Regions from separate parts of the Homo sapiens genome. Here region 2 is linked to region 1. The links come from fine-mapping of genetic effects on gene expression. A gene starts in region 1. The other region holds a variant in brackets. All regions are shown on one strand. Distances are from middle to middle.

Region 1 (10,221 bases):
CCCTTTTAGTTGCCACTCCCCAAGGGTTAGCCACTATGCTCACTTCTTTCCTGATGTGCTTTTCAACTTAAAAACCACATACTAACCATCCTGATAAAGAAATACAACACGTTCTATATTTTATATCATATATACATTACCATTATATTTCACATGAAGTCAAAGTCCTCTGTGCCTCTGCCTAGCTCACAGTCCCGCCTTTCTCCCCCAACCTCTGAGAAAGTGAAAACTGCCCCTGACAGTTTGGAGCTGGCTTTCGCTATCGGGCAGGCTTTGGGGTTGCCAGGTGCCGGCCTGGCACTCACAGGTAGACTGTGGTGTTCTGCTGAACACAAACCATTTCACAGAAAACCATCAGACAGGCCACTCTATGACTATGACGGTTCGAGACCAAGACAAGGCCACTGCGGAAGAACGTCTGAGCACAGACGACTGTGTCCAAACTCCAAAAGATGACCAAACCTCCCCCTTCCCTGGCTAATGTGAGTGACTGCTGCATCTTTATCCATTACAGCGTTAGCACCTCTTTGTCCCTTCTGTCTTCTAGAAACAAATTATTAACATACCCAATTACAGGCCAGGTGCAGTGGCTCACACTGTAATCCCAGGACTTTGGGAGGCCATGGTGGGCAGATCACTTGAGGCCAGGAGTTCGAGACTAGCCTGGCCAACATGGCAAATCCCCGTCTCTACTAAAAACAGAAAAAATTAGTTGGGCATGGTGATGCATGCCTGTAGTCCCAGCTATTCGCGAGGCTGAGGCATAAGAATTGCTTGAACCCAGGAGGTTGCAGTGAGCTGAGATCGTGCCACTGCACTCCAGCCTGGGCAACAGAACTAGACCCTGTCTCAAAAAACAAAAAAAGATACCCAGTGACAGAAACAGCCCTGCTTCCTAACAGGATTCAATCCAGAACAAAGCCCCACTTCCTTGTAACCACCCAACACAAGCCCAACCCTACAATAAGTCCTTTCCAACATCCTCTTCCTTCTTTTTAATTGTGGTAACAGATGATACATAACAGAAATTTTACCATTTTGACCCTTCTTAAGTTTACCATTCAGTGGCACTGAGTATGTCCCGTACATGCTTTTATACTTTTACTATACAAGTATATATCCAAAAAACAATACATACTAGTGGTCTGCATGCTTTTGTACTACAAAAAATGGTATACTGTCTTGGTGCGGTAGCTCATGCCTCCTGTAATCCCAGCATTTTGGGAGGCTGAGCTGGGAGGATACCTTGAGCCTAGCAGTTCAAGACCAGCCTGGGCAACACAGCAAGACCTCATCTCTACAAAAAAAATTAAAAAGTATTAGCCAGGCATGGCGATGTGTGCCTGTTGTCCCAGATACTCAGAAGGCTGAGGTGGGAGGATTGCTTGAGTCTGAAAGGTGGAGGCTGTTGTGAGCCATGACTGAGCCACTGCACTCCAGCCTGGGTGACAGAGTAAAACCCTGTATCAAAAAAAAAAAAAAAAAAGGATCATAGCAACGCATTCTTCTGCATCTTACTTTTTTCTATATAACATGTTCTAGCATTTTAAAAACTATTAAAGTAATATATACTCATTATAAAAAATAATAAAATAGAATAAAAGTATGTAAATAGTGAAAGTCCTTCTGTTTGTTCCCCTCTCACAACTTAATCTCTCTCCCAGAACAGTCCCAGGTGTAACCTTTCAGACTATTCTACACACACCTGAACACACATATATGTACATGCTTATCCAGACAGATTCAGGCTTTTGTCATTTAATATCTCTTGGGTGTTTTTCATTTCACATTACATTTTTGTAACATATTTTGAGATCTGTCAAATATCATACTTTTTTTTTCTGAGACTTTTTTTTTTTCTGAGATGGAGTCTTGCTCTGTCACCCAGGCTGGAGTGCAGTGGCATGATCTTGGCTCACTGCAACCTCTGCCTCCCGAGTTCAAGCAATTCTCCTGCCTCAGCCTCCCAAGTAGCTGCTGGGGTTACAGGCATGGACCACCATACTCAGCTAATTTTTGTATTTTTAGTAGAGATGGGGTTTCACCACATTGGCCAGGCTAGTCTCAAATTCCTGGCCTCAGATGATTAGCCCAACAGGGCCTCCCAAAGTGCCGGGATTACAGGCATGAGCCACCGCGCCTGGTATATTATACTTTAAAGTGGCTGCAAAGAATTTGGAAGAACTTTAAAATGGTGTATGCCATGAGTATTTCTTTGCATTTTTCACCTGTCCCCACCCTACCTTTGTCTCCCGTTTTGGTGTAAATCTTGGGGATCCTGGGTGTCTTCGAGGAAGGCTGTGGCCTAATGAGAAATAAACATCAGTATCTGGTGAGTGGGGATGGCTTACACAGAGGGTCAGCTCCTTCAGAGGGTCCCAGCTTGCTGCTTGTAACCTCAGAGGCAGCACTTACCCCTTACTGCTTAGATGGTCATCTCTTGTTGATTTCTTTCCCCTAGATCCTTTCTAATAGCAAACATTTTGTGGGCAAGACCAGAGCTGGATGACAGAGTGTGTAGAGTAGCTGATGTAATGCCTTGCTCAACAAAGATGCTCAATAAATATTTGCTGAAGGACTTGATTGATCCTTTGCCATTGTCCCTGCACTGTGCCAAGTAGTTTACAGGCATTATCTTCTGGAATTATCCTGGAATCTTTCCACAACCCCAAAGGTAGCCAACACCTATTCTCTTCATTTTACTGAGGAGGAAACTATGGCTCAGATGAGACACCTTCCTAGACCATCCAAGAAGAGGCAGGAGTGGGATGCCCAAAACTGTCCTAGACCAGAGCACAAACTGTAACTTCTATCCTACCGAAATTATTTATTTATTTATTATTATTATTATTATTTTGAGATGGGGTCTCACTCTGTCACCCAGGCTGAAATGCAGTTGCACGATCTAGGCTCACTGCAACCTCTGCCTCCCAGGCTCAAACAATCCTCCCACCTCAGCCTCCCGAGCAGCTGGGAGCACGGGTGTATACCACCACACCCAGCTAATTTTTTTTTTTTTTTTTTTTTGGTAGAGACGGGTTTCACCATGTTGCTCAGGCTGGTTTTGAACTCCTGAGCTCAAGCAATACTCCTGCCTCAAACTCCCAAAGTGTTGTGATTACAGGCGTGAGCCACCGTATCTGGCCTATGATTATTTTGTTCACAGACAGGGTCTTGCTCTGTTGCCTAAGCTGGAATGCAGTGCAGTGGCATGATCATAGCTCACTGCAGCCTTGAACTCCTGAGCTCAAGTGATCCTCTGCCTCAGCCTCCCAAGTAGCTAGGACTCTTAACTCTATCCTACCCAAATTTTTATCTTATACTCCACCAACTCAGGGCCTCTTGCAGGAAAAGAAACCTGAGCCACTTCCATAGTATGAGGCTTCGAGTGTACTCAGAGATGAAGAATTGCCAAAATACAGCTCAAAAAGTGGCATTTTCAAAAAACAATGTAAACAACTCAAGGACATAGCTCAAAATTAAAATGTGACATTACAAGCCCATTCGAAGGTTAATTTCCTGGATCTGTGAACTAAATTAATCCATTATTAATCCACGGTACTCTAGAGGTTCTGAGGTCTGGGTTGAGGTGCAAGTTTCAAGGAATATGAGGAAAGCCATCTTTAGAAGGTGCTGGTGTATCTGGGACCTGGGGAATAAACTGCTTTGGAGATTGGTCACAATCTGAGTCGAGAGCCCTCCTGGCCCACATGGGATATGCCCTGCCCTGCCCGATGATAGCGGGACTTCATTGGGACTTAGGCAAAGACTACCTGGTCTCTGGCGCCCACGTGGCCCACGTTGCCATGGTGACGTCAGAACAGCGTGGAGACGTCACCTGACGGTTGCCGCGGTGACCTCACGGCGGTGTGACGTACCCATGGCGACGACACCACGATTCACGGCAGGTGTTCGAGTTGCCCTTCCCGCCAGCCACTCACCTGTCCCCGTCTTCCACGCCCTGAGGGCCGCGGCTCTGGAAACGGGGATACAGGAGCCTGGCGGCGCCGAAGCACCCGCGCAGGCCAAGACGGCTCCCCAGGCCAAGACGGCTCCCCAGGCCGCACACAGCCATGAGCCAGGCTGCTTGACGGGACCTGACCCCGCCAGGTTCCCGTCCAGTCCGCGGGGTGACTCCACCCACAGCTGGCCGCGCCACCGCTCAGGTTTCAATTTTTATTGGTTCGCAGTTCTCACCCCAGGGCGGGACACTCCCAGGGACTTGTTTCCCATTGGTTTAACGGAAGGAGCGGGGCGGGAAAACCCGTGTCGGCTTGGCTGCAACACCTATTGACCAATGTTCAAGCCTATTGGTAAAGGTACTCCGGGCTCGCGCGCTCTGATTGGCTGGCCTGAAGTACAACGCCTCCTCCCCTTGAGGCACGGGCGCTCTGGGTTGTGGGAGTTGGGGAGCTGCTCCGGCTTCGGCGCGGAGGGGCGGCGGCCGGGGAGGCGGCGGCGGCGGCAGGTGAGAGGCCGGGGTCGGGCGGCCGGGCGGCGCGAGGTCCTAGACCCAGGACGACGCTGAGCCAGGCGTCCAGCTTCTGTGGCTCAGTTTACCCAGCTCTGAGAGTCTTGCCCCGAGGGATCGGCGACCTCAATCTGACAGTCGTGATTTTGAGCTTGACAAGCAAGGGGATTCCCCGCTCTGAGCCTCAGTTTTTCTAAGAAATGGGGATCACGATAGTACTTAGCTCATAGTACACCTGAATCTTAGCGTAAGGTAATCTACGTAAAGCCTTAAGCGGAGGATAATTTTGCGTTATGTATAAAAGTGTAAATTGCACACACCTATAGACCCTGCAAGCTCCTTTCTAGGACTCTGTCCTGCAGAAATACTCATTTAAGTGTGCAAAACGAGGCGTACTGGGTGTTTTCTGCAGCCTTGTTTATAATTGTGACACATTGGAAACAGCCTAAATGTCCAGCAAAGAGTTCTTTCTGCTCCATGATTTCATGTAATTTCTACCTTTAATAGTAGTAGTTGTAAAAGCTGAAACGAAGAACAGAGCCAGTAATAAGTAGCTCTCAGTAATTGAATGATTAGTAGGTGCCAGACACCGCCAAGTGTTTCCCTTGCGTTAATTTAACCTTCCTAACATCCACCGAGGTAGGTACGGTTATTTTCTCTCCATATAACGTGTGGGGAAACCGAGGTTCTTAGCCATTTAAGTGAGTTAACTAAGATGACATCACTGGGGAGTGGAAGAGCTGGCATTTGAACCCAGATCTGTTGGATGTGTCCAGTTGACTCCTGCATTGCCTTTCTGGTACGTAGCAAGTGCTGGACGGTAACTACCTTTTTTGTTATTATGATGGGCTTGAACTAGGTGTTCTAAGATCTCTTCCTGCTGGTTCTGACATCTAGAGATCTTTGCTCTTCTCATTGGCTTTCCCTTTTAGGATTCCCAGGAGCCATGTTGTCAGAAGTCCTACTGGTGTCTGCTCCGGGGAAAGTCATCCTTCATGGAGAACATGCCGTGGTACATGGCAAGGTACAAAGCCGTTAGAGCCTTTAAGGATTGGGTACCCCTTCTCCCTGATGCTAATTTTGTAAGAAGGTAAAAGGACACCCTGAGGCACAGCTTGGGAGCAGATCAGAGAGATCAGGTTCTCCCCAGCCAGGCAAGGAAAAGATTTCTTATGCCCACTGAAGGGATTCTTGGGCCTCGCTCGGTATGATAGCAAAAAGATGATTATAATATAAAGCCCTGTGAGTGGAATGAGATCACCTAGGAGTGAGCTTTGATGCAGAAGGAAAGAGGTTTGAGAACTGAGCTCCGGGGCACTAAGACATTTAGAAGTTGGAAGGATGATCTAGCAAAGGAGTTGAAAACATCCATTATCTCATTTTACCCTTACAGCTACCCCCAAGGCATACCCTTTTATTATCCTATTTTACAAATGTGCAAACTGAGGCTTAGGAGAGAAGTGGTAACTTGATCCAAGTCCTATATACCTTGGTAGAGCTTGGTGTGAACCTAAGTCTGTCTGAAACCACCTCTGCTGCACTCTGCTTTTTTTTTTTTTTCCTGAGACAGTCTTGCTCTGTCACCGGAGTGCAATCTTGCGATCATGGCTCACTGCAGCCTCCAACCTCAGCCTCCCAAGTAGCTGGGACCACAGGTGTGTACCACCATGCCCCACTAATTTTTTTCTTTTATTTTTCTGTAGAGACGTGGTCTGACACTACGCTGGTCTCAAACTCCTGGGCTCAAGTGATCCTCTTGCCTTGGCCTCCCAAAGTGCTGGGATTACAGATATGAGCCACCACACCTGGCTTCTCACTGCTATTCTTTATGTTCTTATATTTCTCATTGAAAACATGGTGATTATGGGGAAGTGATTCCTTGGTATTGAGAACCTCTGAAATTTTGCAGGCAGAAGGCAAAGTGGATTTTAACTTTTAGCTGATCGATGGTGGCTGTTCCCAGGCTTAGTGGGAGAGCATGCCAAGGTTGATTAGCAGTGTCTGGCAAGGGCATGGCTAGGAGTGGCCTCTGTGCTTATGTTTGCTCTCTTCTTAGCACGTGGGTCCTGGCCCCTTTGCCACTCACCCTCAGGCTTATTGCTTTTGTCATTTATTCTATAGGTAGCACTGGCTGTATCCTTGAACTTGAGAACATTCCTCCGGCTTCAACCCCACAGCAATGGGAAAGTGGACCTCAGCTTACCCAACATTGGTATCAAGCGGGCCTGGGATGTGGCCAGGCTTCAGTCACTGGACACAAGCTTTCTGGGTGAGTGCAAGGAGGAGAAACCAGGTGTGCTAAGAGCCTACAGAGAGGGCAGCTGGCCAGGTATTCTGGGCTGTCCCCAAGGGAGCCAGGGGCCAGCTATTTCCCGGGTGTTTTCTACCCTGACCTCATAAAATTAGCTTCACTCATTTTATTTTTTTAAAATTTATAGGTGTAAAACAATGCATTGGATCTCTGTGGGCTGTTGTGGACAGATCATCAAGGCCTATTGTTGAGTGAAAAAAATGCAAAACAGCAAACATACGTATTTAAGTATAAATATGTGTATAAATGATAGAAAAGGTCTCGGGGGCATAGACATCAGATTGGCAGTGGTGATTAGTTCTCCTGGGAGAGACCTAGGGCCAGAGAGTAGACAAAGTGACACATGTTTTAAATAAGGAGAATATATTGGCATTTTGTATAATTAAAAATTGATAAAAGTAGGCCAGGCACAGTGGCTCATGCCTGTAATTCCAGCACTTTGGGAGGCCAAGGCGGGCGGATCATCTGAGGTCAGGAGTTCGAGACCAGCCTGGCCAACATGTCGAAACCATGTCTCTACTAAAAATACAAAAATTAGCTGGGTGTGGTGGCACACACCTGTAATCTCAGCTACTCAGGAGGCTGAGGTAGGAGAATCGCTTGAACCTGGGAGGCAGAGGTTGCAGTGAGCCAAGATTGCGCCATTGCACTCCAGCCTGGGGGACAGGGCAAGACTCCATCTCAAAAAAAAAAAAAAAAATTTAATAAAAGTACAAGTTACCTATGCTTATTATTGGAAAATATAGTCAATACTGGGACATTGTAATTTTAAAAATCACCTATTATTTCCCTTCTCCTTTCCCTGACCCCAGTAATGACTCTAAGCATTTAGGCATTAATCCTTCTGGGTGATTTTCTGTAGATTGATAGAAAGATTGATAGAGACAGGGAGATATCTTGGTTTTTTAACCAAAATTGGGTCAGGCCATATAAACCATTCAGAAGTACTGATTTTTTCTTTGTGTGTCACGTGTGTGTGCTGATTTTTGACAGCACTGTGAAGATTTCATCCACTCATAAGCAGGCCAGCTTTTTCCATCAGTGGAGTCCCCTGTACCTGCCCCAGAGCTGACGTGTGTTTTCTCTGTTGTCAGTTTACTGTCTGCTCCCTGGGCTGAATGAAGCCTTGCTCTTTGGAACAGTGTTTCTCAGCCAGGATGGGGTAAATGAGAATCTTTTTGGGTTTTTTCCTTACACTGCACCTGAACCCTTGACACCTGCTTCCCATTCCCCATGAGAAACCACAGTCACTCCCATATGCCGTATGGGGATGGAGGAAGAGTTGAAAATTCTCATTTCACTTGTTGAGATGGGGTCTCACTGTGTTGCCCAGGCTGGTCTGGAACTCCTGGGCTCAAGCAGTTTTCCACTTTCCCACCTTGGGCTCCCAAAGTGCTGGGGTTACAGGTGAGAGCCACTGTGCCCAGCCAAAATCCTCATTTTAGAGCAGCCCTTTTTAACTTCATCATATCTTGGAATCACCCAGGAGTTTTTTGTGATGGTGGTGGTGGTTTTTTTTAACCAATACAGATGGATGGGCTCCTGGCTCCGCCCCTCTCTTATTGGGAGTTGGTAGTGGTGGTAGGAGTTTTTGAAAGGGGTTCCTTGGGTGATTCTGGGGACACCTCAGTTAAAAGCCACTCCTTTGGAGCGTGCATCTGAAAACAACCAGCCAGAGCACATGGAACTTGCTTTCCAAGGTGCACAGGGCCACCCAGCCAGACCAGAAATGTCTCCTGAGAACCAGCTGCAACTTGTGTATGTCAGTAGCTTGGGGTGGAAGCAGCCAGGTATGGGGGAACATGTCTCAGACCACTCCAACTCCCTCAGTGAACCTGGGGCAGGTCACTTCATCCTCTGGGCCTCGGAGCAGAGACATGTTTCCTGACTGAGGGCTGCCATGAGGATCCGACGACACTGGAGGCAGGCATTAGGGGTGCGACACAGAGTGCATTATGTAGGGAAGGGCTTGTTAGTTTTGGAGCTCTGGGAGACATACTATCTTCTAGGTTGCAAAGATCTACCATCTTTCTTTCAGTGTCCTTTTGCTCCCTCCTGATAGTAATAAACATTGAACTTTTTTTTTTTTTTTAAGAGGCAGGGTCTTACTATGTTGCCCAGGCTGGTCCCAAATTCCTGGGCTCAAGTGTTCTTCTGCCTTAGCCTCCCGAGTAGCTGGGAATATAAGCACATACCACTGCACCGTGCTACTACAGTGAACACTTATTGGGCACTTACGTGTGCCAGGCACTAAGTGTGTTCACATATGTTAGCACTCTTAGAATTCGCCAGCATTCCCTGGAAGTAGGTGGTGGTATTCATCCCCATTGTACAGATCTGAAAATTAAAGTTCAGAGGTCAAGTGGCTCAGGTTACACTTGTTGGTGACACTGAAAGGATTCAGACCCAGGTTTCTCCTAGCCCCAAAGTCCAGGCTCTTAACAGCTGTTCCATCTCGATTACAAAGCTCTGAAATACCTGGGTTCTCAATGATGCCATGACTTGGCCATTTGAGTATATCATTAATCCATTCAACACACATTTACCCAGTACTTAACCAGTGCCCGAAGTTTCCTAACACACGCATGCCCAATTCCATTTCCCAGTCCCTTGAGAATGTGACCTGAGGCTCAGCGAGTGATTTGTAAAGGTGAGCTGGCCAGAAAGGCTCTGCCTTCTCAGTGTCTCAGAGGAAAGTGGCCCAGGTTCCTGTACATCCCTGGGAACAACCTGCCTCACCTTCCCCTTCTGCCCAGGCACCGCCTCGCATTTACACTGTCCTATTCCTGATGATTATCTTTTGGAGGAGGGAAATATTTTGGGGGTTAACTTAACACTCTTTTGATTTTGGTTTTATACAATGGAAGGTGAAACCTAGGCCCTTGTGCGATTGAGCCAGCATTCTCTGTGTGTGTCTGTGTGTCTGTGTGTGTTTGTTTTAAGACTACAATTTTTTTTTTTTTTTTTTTTGAGACAGGGTCTCACTCTGTTATGCAGCCTGGAGTACAGTGGTGCGACCACAGCTCACTGTTTCTTCAACCTCCTGGGCTCAAGCGATCCTCCTGCCTCAGCCTTCTGAGTAGCTGGGACCACAGGTGTGCGCCACCATGCCTGGCTAGTTTTTGTACTTTCTGTAGAGTTGGGGTTTCGCCATGTTACCTAGGCTGGTCTCAAACTCCTAGGCACAAGTGATCTGCCCACCTTGGCCTCCCAAAGTACTGGGGTTACAGGCATAAGCGCCTGCACCCAACCTTAAAACTACTGTTAATTAGCACTTACTACATGCCAGGTGCTGTGCTAAAAAGTTTACACCCCTTATTTAACTTTACGTTCCTGACAACCGTAAGAAGAGGCACTGTTGTTATCCCTGTTTTACCAAGGTGGGAAACAGGTTCAGGGAGGTTAAGTCACACGGCCAGTAAATGGCACAGTTGGGACT
Region 2 (16,532 bases), 32 kb after region 1:
TTAGCTTTCTGTGCTCAGGCTCGTTTTTCTGGATTCGGATGTATTTGACCGGGGTGGGGCTCGGACCTGCATGTTTTCCTCCCCACGCGATTTTAATGAACAACCAGGCCAGAGGCTGCTGTGCCCTCAGTGATGGCGCTGGCTGACAGCCAGCCTCCAGCCTTTAGGAGGTGGGCCTGGGAGCCTCCCCAGGCTTCCATAGATGTCCGCGGCAGCTGTGAGATGGGTGCAGGGGACAGAGGCTGAGACCCCCAGAGCCCGTCTGCTCCTTGAGGCCCTCTCTCTCTCATTCCCTGGGGACAGGATGTCACTCCTGGGGCAGGGGCCAGCTCAACACTCTTGCTCCAGTGAAGCAGCTGCCGGTGCGCTTTGGCCAGAGCAACCTTTCAACCCAGCCACCCCTGCGGCCACCATATGGGCCTGGTGTCACACTCCTGGCTACCTTGTAGACAGTTGGCACTTGCGGCTGTCACCCCTTCTCATTGCCTATTGCAGTGGTTCTCGCTCTCAGAGCTGCACCTCGGAACCACCTAAGGACCCACGAATTCCTGACTCCACCCCAGATATTCTGAGTTAATCTGTCTCAGCGGTATCTTTTTAAAAAGACATCTTTTAAAAGCTCCCAGGTGATTCTAACGTGTGACCAAGCACCACATGGTGCTGCACACCTGTAGTCCCAGCTACTCAGGACGCTGAGGCAGGAGGATCGCCTGAGCCCAGGAGTTGGAGGCTGCAGTGAGCTATGATGGTGCCACTGCACTCCAGCCTGGATGACAGAGTGAGACCCCGTCTCAAAAATATTTTTAAAAAATAAGAAAATGCAGCCAGGGCTGAAGATACCGAACTGGATGACCCCAGGGTCATCTCTGCACGCCATTGTGGTGGTTGAGCACTTCAGCCCTGCCCACCCCCTGGCCATGTGACCTTGGGCAAGACAGCTTACCTCTGGAGGCCACAGCTTCCTCATCGGGAAAGTGGGATTCACTAATACCCACCTTATGGAGGTTTCGTGGGGATCAATGAGAAAATATACAGAAGGCCCTTGACACAGTGCGTGGCACACGGTAAGTGCTCAATAAATACTCATTATTATAACTGTCTTATGCTGAGAGATAAGGGTGTCTTCCAGAGCCCCAAAACTTCAGAATGGTGCACAGAGCTGGCTCAAGGCGCCCTGCCCAGATGGTCCAAAGCCCCTAGGTTGAGACCCCTTGGGTCGCTGTTGGAGAAACACACCTAAGGCCCACCGGCTTTCCCACCTCCCTGCTTCCTCTGCAAAGAGGCGGTCACATAGCACTGACACCTTCTTTGCGAGGGGAACAGCAGTGCCTTTCAGGTCATAAGCTGGAGCCGCTCCCAGGGTCTGCAGCCTGAAGTTCTCAGAGAATTTCCCTGGTTCTGGCAAGGGTCTCACTTTGGGAGGCAGGCAGGAAATACTGTGGTTCTTTCCAGACAGAGTAGCTGCTATGGTTGCACTGATGTCGTCTCTGTCAGTGAGGAGTCCTTTTATTTATTTTTAGACAGTCTCACTCTGTTGCCCAGGCTGGAGTGCAGTGGCGCCATCTTGGCTCTCTGCAACCTCTGCTTCCCAGGTTCAAGTGATTCTCCCGCCTCAGCCTCCCAAGTAGCTGGGATTACAGGTGTGTGCCACCACGCCTGGGTAATTTTTGTATTTTTAGTAGAGACAGGGTTTCCGCCACGTTGGCCAGGCTGGTCTCGAACTCCTGACCTCAAATGATCTGCCCACCTCGGCCTCCCAAAGTGCTGGGATTACAGGCATGAGCCACCACACTTGGCCTGGTGAGGAGTCTTTCCTCACCAAGGTTTCTGTGGCCTGCTGGCAGCCAGTCGCGTTGGCTGGCTGGCTCCAGGTCAGCAAGCGTGGTGGGGGGCCGGCCCTGCCCTTCGCTTGTGCTTGGCCCAGCCAGCTCCTTTCTCCTCCACGGCTGTTTTCCTCCTTGTTTCCTCAGCTAGCGCCCTTTGGAAGACACCTGGCTCAGGGGCCCGCACCTCGCAGGTGCTTCCTTCCCCAGCCCTTCCTGGTTTCCAGCTAATTTTGGACAAGTTCTTTGGCTGTCTCTTAGCACCTACTGTCTTCTAGGAAGGGGCAGAGAGCTGGATTTGAGGCCAGGAGCTCTGGTTCCTAGTCTGAGCTCTTTAGTTCTCAAATTATAATATTTTTACTATTACAGAAACAGTGTAAATACACTGTAGAAAGAAAATACAGATTAGCAAAAATCACATCAAAGCACTGTGTTTTTACCATACAGAGATTACCCCTGTGAACAGCTGCCACCTTTCCCTCTGTGTGTGTGTGTGTGTGTGTGTGTGTTCATGCTGTTCGATAAAGTGAGATCATACTGTACATGCTGTTTTGTTACCTACCTTTTTGGTTTCCAGTCACCTTTCTCTGTCAATATGTTTCATCTCTAATGCCCAGGCTATAGTCACATTTCCTCCAGTTGGGCCAGGTGTCCGGCACCCTGTCTAATACCACATACCTGGCTGTTACAGCCCTGGCTTCTCTTTTAATCTAGCACAGCAGCCCTACACACACACACACACACACACACACTCATACCTATTTTTCTCCATGATATGACTTGCTTAAGAGACCCAGCGGATCATCCTGCAGAATGCTGTGTCTTCTACACTGGTCATTCAGAATCCAGCCCCTCCACATGGCTTTGGGAGGTCTTGAACCCTTTACTGAGCACCTACGATGTGCTCAGCATGGTGCTAAGTGCTTTGTGTGCTTTATCCCTGTGAATCATTTCAGTCCATTGAGCTAATTACCGTGCTTATCCCCATTCTGTTGGTGAGTAAACTGAGGCCCAGAGTAGGGAAGTGACTTGCCCAGGGTCACGTGGCAGAGTGGGATTTGCACGCAGTTCTGTGTAACTTCAGGGCCCTGCTCTTAGCCCGTGTCTAGACTCTCCCCGGGGAGGTGACTGGTGACCTCTCCGAGCTCCCTCTCCCCACCATACCTAATTGACAGAACTGAGTTGTCACATCTGCCCCAGCGGTGCTGGCCCAGCTCACCCCTGCTGCCCGCTTGGCCCTGGCTGTGAACACCTCAGACCCCCAACCTACACAACAAACAGGCAAAGGGAGCAACCTGCCAAAGAACATGATGTGTGGTCTCACAGCACTGTGCCCGGAGCCCCCACCTCCCCATATCCAAGGAAAACCTGGCACTGGGCCGAACCTCACACCTCACACCTCATGTCCTCAAAACTGAAACAGACAAGGGCAATGGTCTCCCAATGAATGCTTCAGTTGCTTGAATCCAAAAGTGTCAGGGTCAGGAGGACCCTTGGAGATCACACAGTCCATCACCTCGTTTGCTGTGAATGCGGAGACCAAGACTCAGAGAGGGCAAGAGATTGCCTAAGGTCACACAGTGAGCCACCTTGTCCTCTTCCTTGCCATTTGGTTTTCTCCATGCGGCAGGGTTGTCACAGGAAAAGCACTTGCAATCCAGAGATCCGTCTTCAGGCCCAGCTTCTGCACCTGCTGGCTGCGTGACTTCCAGCCGGGACTCCTCTGTACCCCCAACTCGGCCTCAGTTTCCTCAAATGTAACATCCCAGGCAGGGTGCTAAACCCCTCAGGCATCATTCCACTTACTTCCCACAGCAACCCTGCAGACCAGGTACAACAGAACCACAATTCTTTGTCCAAAATCCTGGGGCCAGATGTGATGTGGAATGGAGGATTTTGCAGGTTTTAGGGAGACCCCCTCCCGGCCCATGTTTCATTCCACGTGGCATCTGGGGCAGCACCACCAACCCCTGACTCTATATGAAAGGTACGAAGAGTCCCACTAAGTCGAGTGAAGGCCATAAATAATATGTGAGCCTATGTGGCACTGGCCTTTTTTTTTTTTTTTTTTTTTTGAGACAGGGTCTTGCTCTGTTGCCCAGGCTGTACTGCAGTGGCAAGATCACAGCTCACTGCAGCCTCGACCTCCCAAGCTCAAGCAATTCTCCCACCTCAGCCTCCTGAATAGCTGAGACTACAGGCATGCGCCACCACCCCCTGCTTCTTTTTCTACTTTTTGTAGAGATGGGGTTTTGCTATGTTGCCCAGGCTGGTTTCCAGTTCCTGGGCTCAAGCAATCCTCCCACCTCAGCCTCCCAAGGTGCTGGGATTACAGGCATGAGCCACCATGCCCAGCCTGCTGCATTTGCTGACAAATGAATTTTGATGCCAAGGCCCTGGGTTTCAGAGTGTCTTGGGTTGTGGGCCTGAATTATTTCCCCATTTTGCAGAGAAGCAGACAGATGCTCTCAGACAGGCTCAGTGGCTCACCCGAGGGAGTGTGCTCAGGTTTGAACCCTGTCAGTCTAGCTGGACGAGACCTCCTGCACCGCAGGGTCTGACCAGGGCCCTTCTTTGTCGCTCAGGGTGAAAGGGCTCTGTACTGGCCAGTGGGGGGTGAGACGCCATTCTGCCTGGTGCAGCGTGAGGGCAAGGGGCCCCGGGTCCCAGGTACACTGGCTCAAGCTATTAAGTCAAACCAGAGTCTTCTGTCTTATTTTTTTTCCACCATAAACCTTGTAATGTGACAAACGAGGCTGCAGAAAAGTGGCCAAGTGACAGGTCCATGACATAGCTGCCGGACTCTCTTGGGGTTTCTGTTTCCTCCCAAAAACCAGGGAAGCAATGAGGGGGCCACAGCCCGAGGGAGAGGGAGGGGGCTCCTTCTCCTCCCAGACCAGCCCCTGCCTCCCTCCAGACCTAGGGAGGGCATGGGGGAGGCCTGAGCGCATTGATTCTCACCACACTCAGGCTCACAGAGCAGGGAGCCACTTACTTGCACAGAGAGGGTAAGAGACGGAATGCCAACTGAGCCTCTTTTACAGGCATCTGAGCCCAAACCTCCATGCTCCCTCACTCAGATTAACAGGGTCTGTTATACGTGGTTTTTCGTTTGTTTTTTAATCTCTCTCTCTTTTTTTTTTTTTTTTTTTAGAGAAAGGGTCTCCCTCTGTCACCCAGACTGGAGTGCAGTGGCGTGATCACAGCTCATTGTAGCCTTGAACTCCTGGGCTCAAGCAATTCTCCCATCTCAGCTTCCTGAGTAGCTAGAACCACAGGCTCATGCCACCATGCCTGGCTATGTGTTTTATTTTTTTGTAGAGACAGGGTCTCTATGTTGCCCAGGCTGGCATGTTGTCCTGGGCTCAAGCGATCCTCCCACCTCGGCCTCCCAAAGTGTTGGGATTACAGGCGTGAGCCACTGCACCCAAGCTGTTATACATATTTTAAATCTGATCAGGAAAATATCCATTTTGAGGCATTTGGGTAATGCACTGGCTGAGGCCACGGTGGCCCCCTTGGATGTTGAAGGGGCACCGAAGCTGTCCTAGGCACATGGGCATCCTCCCTGCCCAAAGAAAGAAGCTGCCAGACTCCACAGCCACTGCAGGCAGGATCCAGCCCCTTCTTCATGAGCACTATCCATTCAGCAAATGTTAAATGCACACGTTCTATATGCCAGGAACTGGGCCAGGCCCCAGGGAAGTGAGGTGACTGACCAGAGCTGCTCCTGCCCCGCTTCGGCATGCTGGCCGTGGTTCCGGAGGCTTTCGTGTCACTTCCTCCGCCCATACTCATGGCGAGCCCAGGAGGAAAGTGTGGTGAACCCCATTTTACATAGCAGGAAACTGAGGCCCAGAGAGGAAGTCTCTGCTCCAAGTCATGCAGTCATCAGGTGCAGAAGCTCGGCCCTGAGACAGGTCTCTAGATTCCAAGCACAGTGCTCTCCTGTGTCACCCTGGCTGTCTTGGCCCCAGATGTGGAGGTGAGCATTTGTGGGAGAAGGGAGGTGAGCAGGATGTGGAGAGGGGAAGGCAAGGAGAAAACCAAATGAAAGAGGACAAGGTGGCTTGCTGGGTGACTTCCGGCAGGTCTCTTGCCCTCTCTGGGCCTCATTGTCCCCATCCATTGAAATAATGGTGTCTGTTTACTCTGCCAGAAGCTCCGATGCTCTCATTTAATCCTCCTAGCAATCAGTATTTTGTGGACTCTGGGCTCAGACAGATCTGGCCTTTGATCTGTGGCCTGACTACTTCCAGCTCTGGGGCCTTAGGCAGGTCACATTATTTCTCTGAGCCTCAGGTGCCTCATCAGTAAAGTAGAAATACTAGGAAATAATGCACATCTAAAACATAGCTCAGGCTGGGCGCAGTGGCTCATGCTGTAATCCTAGCACTTTGGGAGGTCGAGGCGTGCAGATCCCTTGAGCCCAGGAGTTGGAGACCAGCCTGGACAACATGGCAAAACCCCGTCTCTACCAAAAATACAAAAAAATTAGCCGGACATGGTGGCACATGCCTGTAGTCCCAGCTACCTGGAAAGCTGAAGTGGGAGGACTGCTTGAGCCCGGAGGTCAAGGCTGCAGTGAGCTGAGATCGCGCCATTGCACTCCAGCCTGGGCGAAAGAGCGAGACTTCATCTTAAATAAATAAATAAATAAATAAATAAAACGTAGCCTGGCACCTAGTACTTAGACTCAGCACCCGGGGGATAGGAACTATTGTTATTATCAGAGAGGGGGAAACTGAGGCTCAGAGAGGCGACGCGACAGCTCAGAAGTGGCCAAGCCAGGATTTGAATCCAGTAGGACTGACTCTAAAGCCTGGGGCCTCCTCCCCTTTCATCACTAGGCAAGGCTAGGTTTTGCTGACATGTCCTGTCCCCAGAGGGAGATTAGAGGGAAGAGCCACCCCTTTCAGCCCTGAGGGACTTAAGCAACTAGTTGGATCTGGCTGGGCTGCCTGAGACCACAATGTGAGCCAGTGATGATCACAGGTCTGGAAGTTGGAGGACACAACCTTGGAGGAAGAGACTCCCCTCGAACCGAGCACCTGCCTTCTGTTGTCAAGACAGCCACATCTGCTCCATTTCCCCTTTGACTTCACTGGGCAAGGGATGTTTTGTGCACACAGCTGGCCTTGTCCTTGGCAGGCATCAGAGCGGCTCTCACTCGCCCCACGTTACCATCTCCTACCATCTGCCTCAAAGAGACACATCCACCACTTGATGGACGTTGGTCCATCAAGATCATTCCCCGATAGAGCTACAAGGACCTACACTCTGCAGATGAGGAAACTGAGGCACAGAGATGGGTCACGCAGTATGGTTGTGGCAGAGCTGGGACTCAAACCCAGGCTCTGAATGGCTGAGGGTGCTGGGTCAAGATGGGGCATCCCAAGGTCAGGAAAAAGAGCAAGAGAGCTGCTAACGTGTCCTCACTGGCCCTGGGAGATGCTAGTACCTCTGCTGATGCCAGTAGTCAGTTTTGACCAGAGTTGGCTCCACGGAGGGCTGAGGGCACGTGGATGCAAGAGTCACGGCTTTGATGAGGAGTAGGGTGAAGGTGTGTGGCGAGGCCAGGATCGGGACTCCCCACCTCCCCACCTGCCTTGTGTGGTTGAGGAGAGCACTGTGCAGGGAGCCAGCATTTCTAAATGCTGTGTGACTTAGGTGAGTGGCTTCCCCTTTCTGGATCTCGGTCTCCTTTTCATATCTGAGATGTTATTCCCAGACCCATGAGAAGCCCCCGGGGGCCGTGGCCTGGTCTTGTTCCCCGCCTGCATCTCAGCATCACTCTGATAACCTCTCCCTGCTCAGGGGTCTCAAACTCACAAGCCTCCAGGGACCAGGCAGGCAGCCACAAGCCAGGCTTGGGGAGGACGCGGCAGGCCCCTGGCCCCAGCTCCAGCCAGCTGTTGCCCTGCAGGGTGGTGAACCCACCATCCAAACCTTTCTATTTAATTTTTAAAAAGAATTCAGAAATCTGGAGTTGTGGATAAAATTTGATTTTTAAATACCGTTCAGTAATAAAACCAAATTTTAAACAATAACAAATGATTATGTCAAGCCCGGGTGCAAAATGGAAACCACCCCAGGGTTGAGACCTTCAGAAGCCGGGCCCCTCTGGCTCTGGGGAGTGAGCTGGGGCATGGGGGTCACCCCCAGGGGTGGGGCCCCCCCTGGAATCTGATTACCCCTCAGTGCCCCACGAAGCAGCAGGCCTGCGGGTGGCGGGGCGGCAGGGGCACCGGCGGCTGGGTTGTGAGCTCATCCCCGGGAGGCACAGATGGTATTTTTTTTTATCAGTGTCAGCACGGACTTCTTTCTGCTCTGATGACTAGATTCTAAAGAGGCAGTGACATTATTTGAGATAACAGAGGGAGCAGAAAAAGGGTCAGCAATGGAGAGAAAACGGCAGAGCCAGCAGATAAAGGGGAGGCCGGAGGGGGCGGAGCACCCTCGCTGGGGGTGCACCCCCCCATTCTTGTGATTCCTGCTCCCTAAGCCTGGCTCCCTGTGGTGGGGGCTGGAATGCCGCCCGGCCCAGGGCAGCGGAGAGGCCCAGACAGCTGCGCCGAGCCGCCCGCTCTGCTCCCCGGCAGCCCTCCTTGGCTGCCCGGCCGCCCATTCCGCCTTTTCAATTCGATTCAATTAGGCCGCCCCGCTCGGAAGCTTGTCTCCTCTGATATCCAGTTTAACTGACAGGGGATTAGTGCTGTTTGTATTACACACACACTCTCTCTCCGGCTGCCAAACTGCTGGCAGGGCCCTGGGACCCGGGTTATTTATGGAGCTGGCTGGCCATACCTTCCCTCTCGGACCTGCTTCCTTTGGAAGCAGGGGGCTGGGGGCCCTGCTCTGTGCTCCCCCTCCATCCCAACCCCACCACTTCCTGATCCAGGGGCCTGAGGGCCTGGGCAAT[G/T]GAGCAGAAGAGCCCAGATAGAACTGGGTTCGAATCTCAGCTCTGCCACTTGCTGGCTGTGTGACCTTGGGTGAGCAACATTGCCTCTCAGCCTCAGTTTCTTTATGTGAAAAATGGAGACGAGGAACCGGCTCATCAGGTGGTTGTGGGGATAAAGCGAGGAGGCAGGGGCAGGGCACTGAACACAGGGCCTGCGTATTCACTGTGCATGTTCACTCAGCGCATGGGACGGGGTGACGATTCTGCACTGGGTGCTGTGCTGAGTCACAGAGGAGGTAGTGGTGGGCCATGCTGATCCAGCCTGCCTTCCAGAAGCCCACACTCAGGTGCAGGAGAGAAAAATGAACATGGAGTCCCTCCCGGTGCTCACACAGGGAGCCCTGGCTAGATGGGAGCATTGATGACAGTGATGATGATGGAGATGGAAACAAGTGCCACCCCAGGCCCTTTGCCTCTGCTGTTCCCTCTGCCTGGAACATCCCCCCGACCCCCCCACCCCCGCCACACACACACACACCTCCTCCGCACCCTCACACTTCACCTGGCTGGCATGTGGCCTCAGTTTACCACTCACCTCCTCCAAAAGCCTTCCCTGACCCACCCTCCTCCTAATGCAGTTCTCCCCTCTTGCCCTCCATCTCTCCCTTTGCTTTATGTCCAAATGTGCCATCTGTTGTTGACTTGTTGCATCGCCTGTCTCCTCAGGAAACTGCGCCTTCCTGAGGGCACACATAGGAGCCCACTCACCGGTCCCCCTGAGTCTAGCACAGTGCCTGGCTCATGCTAAGAGCTTGAGTCTTTCTGGATGAATGGATGCATAAAGGAATGAATGAATGAACAGAGAAGTAGACAGACAAAGGCCCCCTTGCCTGCAACATGGCCATCCTGCTCAGCTCAGTACATCTGGCTTCCCTAGGCCACCTGCCCAGCCCTCCAAAGGGGTTTGCTGGGTCTTGGAATAGGTGGAGGTCAGGTGCTGGTCCAAAGCAGGTGTGGATGCTTCTCTTCTTATCCTTGCTTTACTCAAAGGGAAGGAAGGGCCTTTATAGACCTTTCCTCTCAGCATTCAGGGGACTAGTGAGTACTTTGAGGTGATGGGCTGGAAGGCCCCAGGCCTAGGAAATGTCCTTATTTTGGGGAAGGGCCTCATGCTGCCAGGTCCCGTCTGCATCTTCTCCCTCACTCCGTTTCACAGATCTTGGGTGTGGGGGCACTGGCCCTGACATGCAGGTCTGAACATTTCTACAATTCAATGCAATGAAATAGTAGCCATTACTTACTGCACACACTGGTGCCAGGCTTAACACCCATGACCTCATTTCATTCTCACAAGAGCTCTCCATTCCCCAGAAGAGAAACCTGACAGTCAGAGTTGTGGTGGGGTGTGCCTGACATCACCCAGCCAGGAAGGGGTGAAGCTGGGATCAACCCCAGGACTCTGAGGTTCAATATCTGCTCATTCATCTAACATCTGCCATGTGCCAGACACTTTGGTGTGCGCTGTCTCCCGATGTCCTGAGAAGTAGGTATTCTATGCCCCACTTTGCAGAAGGGAAATTTGAGACTCAGAAAGGTGAAGTGGCTGAACCTCAGTCTCACAGCCTGCTAGGGGCAGAGCTGGCTGGAAACAAGGGTCTGCTTGAGCTCTCATCCAGTTTATAACCTCTACCCTGTGGTTTCTTCCTCAACTCAAGGCCCTGGCCCTGGGGTGTTTCAGATCGATATAGGGCGTGGGTGGGCAGGGAGGGCACACATCTATCAAGCAGCAGGTGCTGAGTTTCTCAAGAGCCCCTGAAATATGACACAGTCCCTGCTGGTAAGGGAGATGTCATCCAGTTACAAGAATATCAAATAAATATGTAAAGAGTTACAAGAATTCAATGACATATAGGAATGTTGAGTACTCTCCCAGGGTGCATGCGTGACTCACAAGTCTGAGCAGTTGGGCAGGGAAGGCAACCTTGAAAGATACATGGATTTGGAAACAGAAGCCCACAAAATAATCATTACAATTACAATGAACTGATCATTATGATGATGATAATAATCATTAATAATGACTACAATTCAGCCCCATATTTGTAGGTCTTGCTGTTCCCATTTCACAGACAAAGATAATGAAGCTCAGAGACAGGAAGCAGCATGCCTAAGGCCAGCCAGCAGGTAGATGGGGCTCAAGCGCAGAGCCTTTGATCCCAAAGTCAGTTCCTCTTCTCCAGCCCTGGACTCGCAGAGTGTCACACTCACAGAGTGTCACAAGTAGCAGGTGGTCTGGCCTGGGTCTTGATGGTTGAGCCAGCATTTGTTTCAAGGGCCAGCTTCTTGGCCAAGGGCCAAGTGTGGCTGGGGCGGAGGTATCCGGTGGAGGTACTGCCTGAGCTCAGATGAACCCTTCCCTGCCCTCCAGGGCTTACAGGGCAGAGCAAGCTAAGCAAACTGATGATGACAGTGAAGAGCAGTGGATTCTGAGTTACCATGGGAACAGGGAAGAAGAGGGGTGCCTCTTCTTCCTAGCCTGGCATGGGATCAAGGAAGGCTTCCTGGAGGAAGAGGTACCTTGGTGGAATTTTGGCTGGGCTAGAAGGTAAGAGAGGGCATTTGAGGCAGCAAAGGCACTGAAGTGAGCAATACCGTGGTGTGCGCAGAGAATCCAAACGCTGTTCTGTGTTCAGTTGGAACCTACAGTAAGTATGAGGCCAACATAAAGCAAGTTTTATCCTGAGGGCTCTGGGGAGCCAGGGTGGGTGTTAGGCAGGGATGGTGGGGTCATAATGATGCTTTATAAAGTTCTCTGGCTGCGGCATGATAAATGGAGGGGCAGGGGGAAAGGAGTCAGGTGAGAGGTACAATGGCTGGAGAGGGGCAGTGGCATTAGGGACAGATGGAGAGGAGGTGACAGATAGGAAGATTTTGTAGGTGCCTGGAGCAGCCTTTCAGTTTTGGAGTCCACCTTGTCACTCTGTTCAAGGAGCGGGTATACCCTGCTCCCTTCTTTTGAGACTGGTTCTCACTCTGTCACCCAGGCTGCTGTGTGGTGGCACAATCACAGCTCACTGCAGCCTTGAACTCATGAGCTCAAGCCATCCTACCACCTCAACCTCTCAAGTAGCTGGAACTACAGTCATGTACTAGTATGCCTGGCTAATTTTTTACTTTTTTTTTTTTTTTTTTGTAGAGATGGGGTTCTTGCTATGTTGCCCAGGGTGGTCTCGAACTTCTGGGCTCAAGCAATCCCCCACCCCTCGGCCTCCCAAAGTGCTGGGATAACAGGCATGAGCCACTGTGCCCGGCCATATACCCCTCTTTTGATAGTCTCCAGCTGGAGGTGGGGCCTCTTTTGCCGATGCCCTAGTTGGCATGGAAGCCCTTTATAACGGTGTTCTAATTAGGGCTCCCATAACAAAGTACCATAAATGTGGTGGCTTAAAACAACAGAGATTTACTCTGTCATGGTTCAGGAGGCCAGAAGTCTAGAATGAAGGTGTCGACAGGACCAGGGACCCTCTGAGACACTGGGTCCTCTGAGAACCCTCCCTTGCCTCTTCCTAGCTTCTGGTGGTGGCTGGCAGTCCTGGGCTTGCGGTTGCATCACTCCAGCCTTGGCTGTTGCTGACACATGGCCTTCTCCCTGTGTGTCTGGCTTCACATGGCATTCCCTCTTATAAGGACAGCAGCCCACCCTCATGACCTCATCTTAACTTGATTACATCTGCAAAGACCTCATTTTCAAATAAAGTCACATTCATGGGGATCCGGGGTTAGGACTTCAAAATCTCTTTGTGGGGGACACGATTCCACTCCCAATAACCCCTAAGGGGCTGGGCATGGTGGCTCATGTGGGTAATCCTAGCACTTTGGGAGGCTGAGGTGGGAGGATTGCTTGAGCTCATGAGTTTGAGACCAGCCTAGGCAATAGGGTGAAACCCCATCTATACAAAAAATACAAAAATTAGCCAGGCACTGTGGTAAGCGCTTATAGTTCCAGCTACTTGGGAGGCCAAGATGGGAGGATGGCAGGATGGCTTGAGCTCAAGAGTTCGAGACCAGCCTGAGCAACATGTCGAAACCCCATCTCTACAATAAAATACAAAAATTAGCTGGGTGTCGTGATGAATGCTTGTAGTCCCAGCTATTCGAGAGGCTGAGGTGGGAGGATGGCTTGAGCCCAGGAGGTAGAGGTTACAGCGAGCCGAGATTGCACCACTGCACTCCAGCCTGAATGACAGAGCCAGACCTTGTCTTAAAAAAACAAAACAAACCCTAAGGGCAGGGGTTTTGCTGGTTGTTTCTGCCTCTGTGGTCTCCAGCCAGAGCCTGGCATATGTCTGTGCCAGAGGGGAGTTGTGGATAGAGTCAGAGTGTCCAGTCTCTCCCCGTGGGTGACCGCAGCCCCTGCTGCCAACAGCAGCAGCCACAGCCCGCTTGGCATCTGGGCAAGGCAGGTCTCCCGGGAAGCCCCCTCCCACGGGCTGTTCTCCGAAAGAAGTGGTGTTGATGTCGGCAGGTGCCTGTCACTTCCCTTCCCCAGCAAAGTCTCAAACTGTCAGAATAAGTGAAATAGTCATTGCCTATCTCTGCGTTTGAGATTTTATTGGCAGTTTCATTGTCACCCAAAACAACCTCCTTTTCTCCGTTGGCGTTTTCATCAGATGGGTCTGTGGGCAGGAGGAGGAGGCAGGGCTGGCTCCTAAAAACAGGCCTGGGCAGGTCATGGTGCTGGCTCCACTGGGCTGGAGTCAGCAGGGGCAAAAGACCCCGTGGTGGGCTCTGCCATGCCTTGGCTCCTGCAGAAAGCTGCTGGGCACTCTCTCCAGGGAGCAAAAAGGAAGTGAGAGACGGAAGGTAAAAACACCCTGAGAGCCCCTGGAGATGGTCACAATGGCCAGATGGGGCAGCCCAGACTGCACAGTGGGTCCTCAGGCCCTTCCCCAGTCCTCCCTGGTGGGAATTAGGGGGGCATTATGGTGGTGGGGTAGGAGCATGGGCTGTGGCATCAGACCCACCTGGCGGCAGGCACCTCAGAGCAAGCACTTCTCCCTGCAGAGCCTCAATGTGCCTGTCTGTCAAATGGGGTGGTAACAGGAACCTTCCATCAGCTGAGGGCTTGATCTGGGCCACACACCCAATTATCCTGTTCAGTCCTCCCCAGAACCGAGAGAGGTGGGTGTGCTCAAGCTCTTCATTTTCTTGATATGGAAACTGAGGCAGCCCGACCAAGGTTACCACAGCAGGCAAATTGCAGGGGTTGGGTTTGAATCCAGGCTGTGAGACTCCAAGCCTGGTTGTGAATCCACTTTGGAGGGTTAGTGGAAGGAGTGTAGGTGATATTATTTTTTTTTTTTTTTGAGACAGGGTCTCACTCTGTTGCCCAGGCCGGAGTTCAGTGGTGCGATCACGGCTCACTGCAGCCTCTACCTCCCAGGCTCAATTGATTCTCCTACCTCAGCCTCCCAAGCAGCTGGGACTACAGGTGTACACCACCACACTCAGCTAAGTTTTAATTTTTCCTAGAGGCGGGATCTCTCTGTTGCTCAGGCTGGCCTCGGACTTCTGGGCTCAAGTGGTCCTCCCACCTTGGCCTCCTGAAGTGCCAGGATTACAGGTGTGAGCCATTGTGCCCGCTGGTAATAAAGTGTCAACAGAGTACTAGGCACATGGGACAAAAAGCCATCTGTTATTGTTGTCTGGGCATGGGGTAGAATCTGGGCCCCTTGGCAGTCACTCTCTGTCCTGGGACTTTCTGGACATCACTGGGTAGTTTCACCCACAGGGTGGCCTAAGGAACCTCCAAGGGAATGGGGTGAGCTCAGGAGTTCCACTGAGACTGGGGGTCCCTGTGTGGGGCTCAATCCTGCTTCATGCTGTGATCCTGCTGGTGTACTCTGTCCCTGGCCCCCAGCAGGGCTGGGTGCCACTCTACCACATCCAAGCATCACAGAAGGGAATCTGAGGCCCAGAGAGCTGTCCCTTGCTCAGGGCTCCTGAGCCAGGGAGGTGGATACAGTGGTTAGAACCACAGATTGTGGAGTCAGTGAACTCCATGTTTGAGTTCTGGTGTGGCCACCTGCTGGTTGGTTAACAAGTTGCTGAGTCTCAGAGTCTCAGTTGCATCCTCTGCACATTGGGATAATAAAGGATTCCTCTGGAGACTGGGTGCTGTGGCTCTCACCTGTAACCCAGCTACTCAGCAGGGAGGTTGGCTTGAGCGGGGGAGTTCGAACCTGTAGCCCCGGTGCTACTCAGCAGGGAGGCTTGCTTGAGCCCGGGTGTTTGAGGCTGCAGTGAGCTATGATCACACCACTGCACTCCAGCCTGGGTTACAGAGTGAGACAGTCTCTAAAAAAAATCACATCCCCCTGCTAAGGCCGAGGGGACAAATGATGCTACACAGAAGACATTAGCACACAGAGAAAAGAAGACAGAGTTTTGGCATCTACAGGCTCCTTGAAGATCTCAGACTCCAGCCCATTCTTGGTGCAGAGGAGGAAACTGAGGCCCAGAGATTAGGGAGGGTTTCCACTTAGCCACCCCGCAGAACAGGGGCTTGTTCCTTGGCCCTGTAACTCCCGATCCAGAATGTCAGCCACCTCCCCAGCTGGCGTCGTCCCGGGAGTCCCCTCCGCCCCTCACCTGCCCTTCTCCCCGTGTCTCTGCCTTCGAGAGCCCAAGCTGCGGGCCCGCAGTGAGGAATGCCATTCTCCCTCTCCCCGGCACACTGAAGGTTTTGAAAGTTAAAGTATTACCGTCGGCTTTGTTGTTGCCTAACTACGACAGACAAATTGAGAACCAGTTGTCAAAATGTCAGTGCACAACAAATCAACATGCAGAACGAGTCTCAGCGCTCTGCGGTGTATAATTAAACAAAAAATCCCTTTTAGAAATTTCAGCGAGCGTTGGTTCCACTTTATATTTGTCTGTGTGATTAATAAAGGCAGCTAATTTTCAGACTTTAAAAACAGCTAGAAAATAGCTCCTAATTACATATTAGGTTCCTCGCGGCCCCCGCTGCGCTCCGCCGGCATTGGTGGGCCGAAGAATTTGGCAGAGTCTTAATTGCATTCTGAGCATCATCTAATTTTAGTTAAATGTAATGTAATCAGCAGCAGATGTCTGAAATAAAATATGAATTATGAATATGATGAAATTTCATTCTTGAATAAAAAAGTAATTTGCTATTTAGTTCATTAAAGTCATAGAGGTTTATTAGGAGCAGGTATATATGGCCCGATGAGGGTATATATTAAGTGATACTGGGAGACAGAAACCCCAAAGGGATGGGAAACTTCATCCAGGAGAGTTCAGTTATGATTAATGACTGTGGGGGCTGGAGAGGCTCCTGGGGACCCTGAGTTTACCCAGCCGGAGAATTCCCTCGGGCTCTTTGAGGAAGGCCCTGAGTTTTGGGACAAGGGGACTTAGAGAGGAAAGCCCTGGGTGCTGCCCCTGAGCCCTGTCCCACCCCTGACACCCACCCCCACCTCCTTACCGCTTCCAAGATGGGCACAGTGGAGAGCTGGCTCCTTGGACATTGCTCTATGCAGGACACTCACCTGGGCCTGGTGACACAGCATGAGGTGGTGATCAGCTTCTTACACACTGAGCAGAGATTGGGGCTCTGCCTCTCGCTGTGTGACCTCAGGCCAGAACCTCAGTTTCCCTTTCTATACAAGGGGACTAATCATAGTACCTATCAGACACTCTGAACAGTACCTGGAATGTGGCAAAGCCCTCGTTTAGCGTTAGCTGCTGGAGTTGCTGTTATTAGCTGTAGAGGTCATATTTTAAAT

What was found.
Region 2: its variant is fine-mapped to the expression of MVK in anterior cingulate cortex (GTEx, PIP above 0.99).

The regions. Positions count from the first base shown.
Region 1 is chr12:109,569,406-109,579,626 of GRCh38, forward strand. It overlaps MVK (mevalonate kinase), which reads left to right and starts at 4,389. Exons shown (of 11, transcript NM_000431.4): 1 at 4,389-4,468; 2 at 5,404-5,495; 3 at 6,593-6,740. The coding sequence starts at 5,418. It overlaps MMAB (metabolism of cobalamin associated B), which reads right to left and starts at 4,099. Exons shown (of 9, transcript NM_052845.4): 1 at 3,942-4,099; 2 at 2,244-2,305. The coding sequence starts at 4,075. RefSeq lists enhancers at 3,489-3,990, 3,991-4,490 and silencers at 4,250-4,379, 4,400-4,629.
Region 2 is chr12:109,598,368-109,614,899 of GRCh38, forward strand. No RefSeq gene overlaps it. Among named protein-coding and RNA genes, the nearest start is that of MVK, 33 kb to the left of the region's middle. RefSeq lists enhancers at 161-850, 12,858-13,358. The variant G/T (reference allele first, on the strand shown) is at 8,746.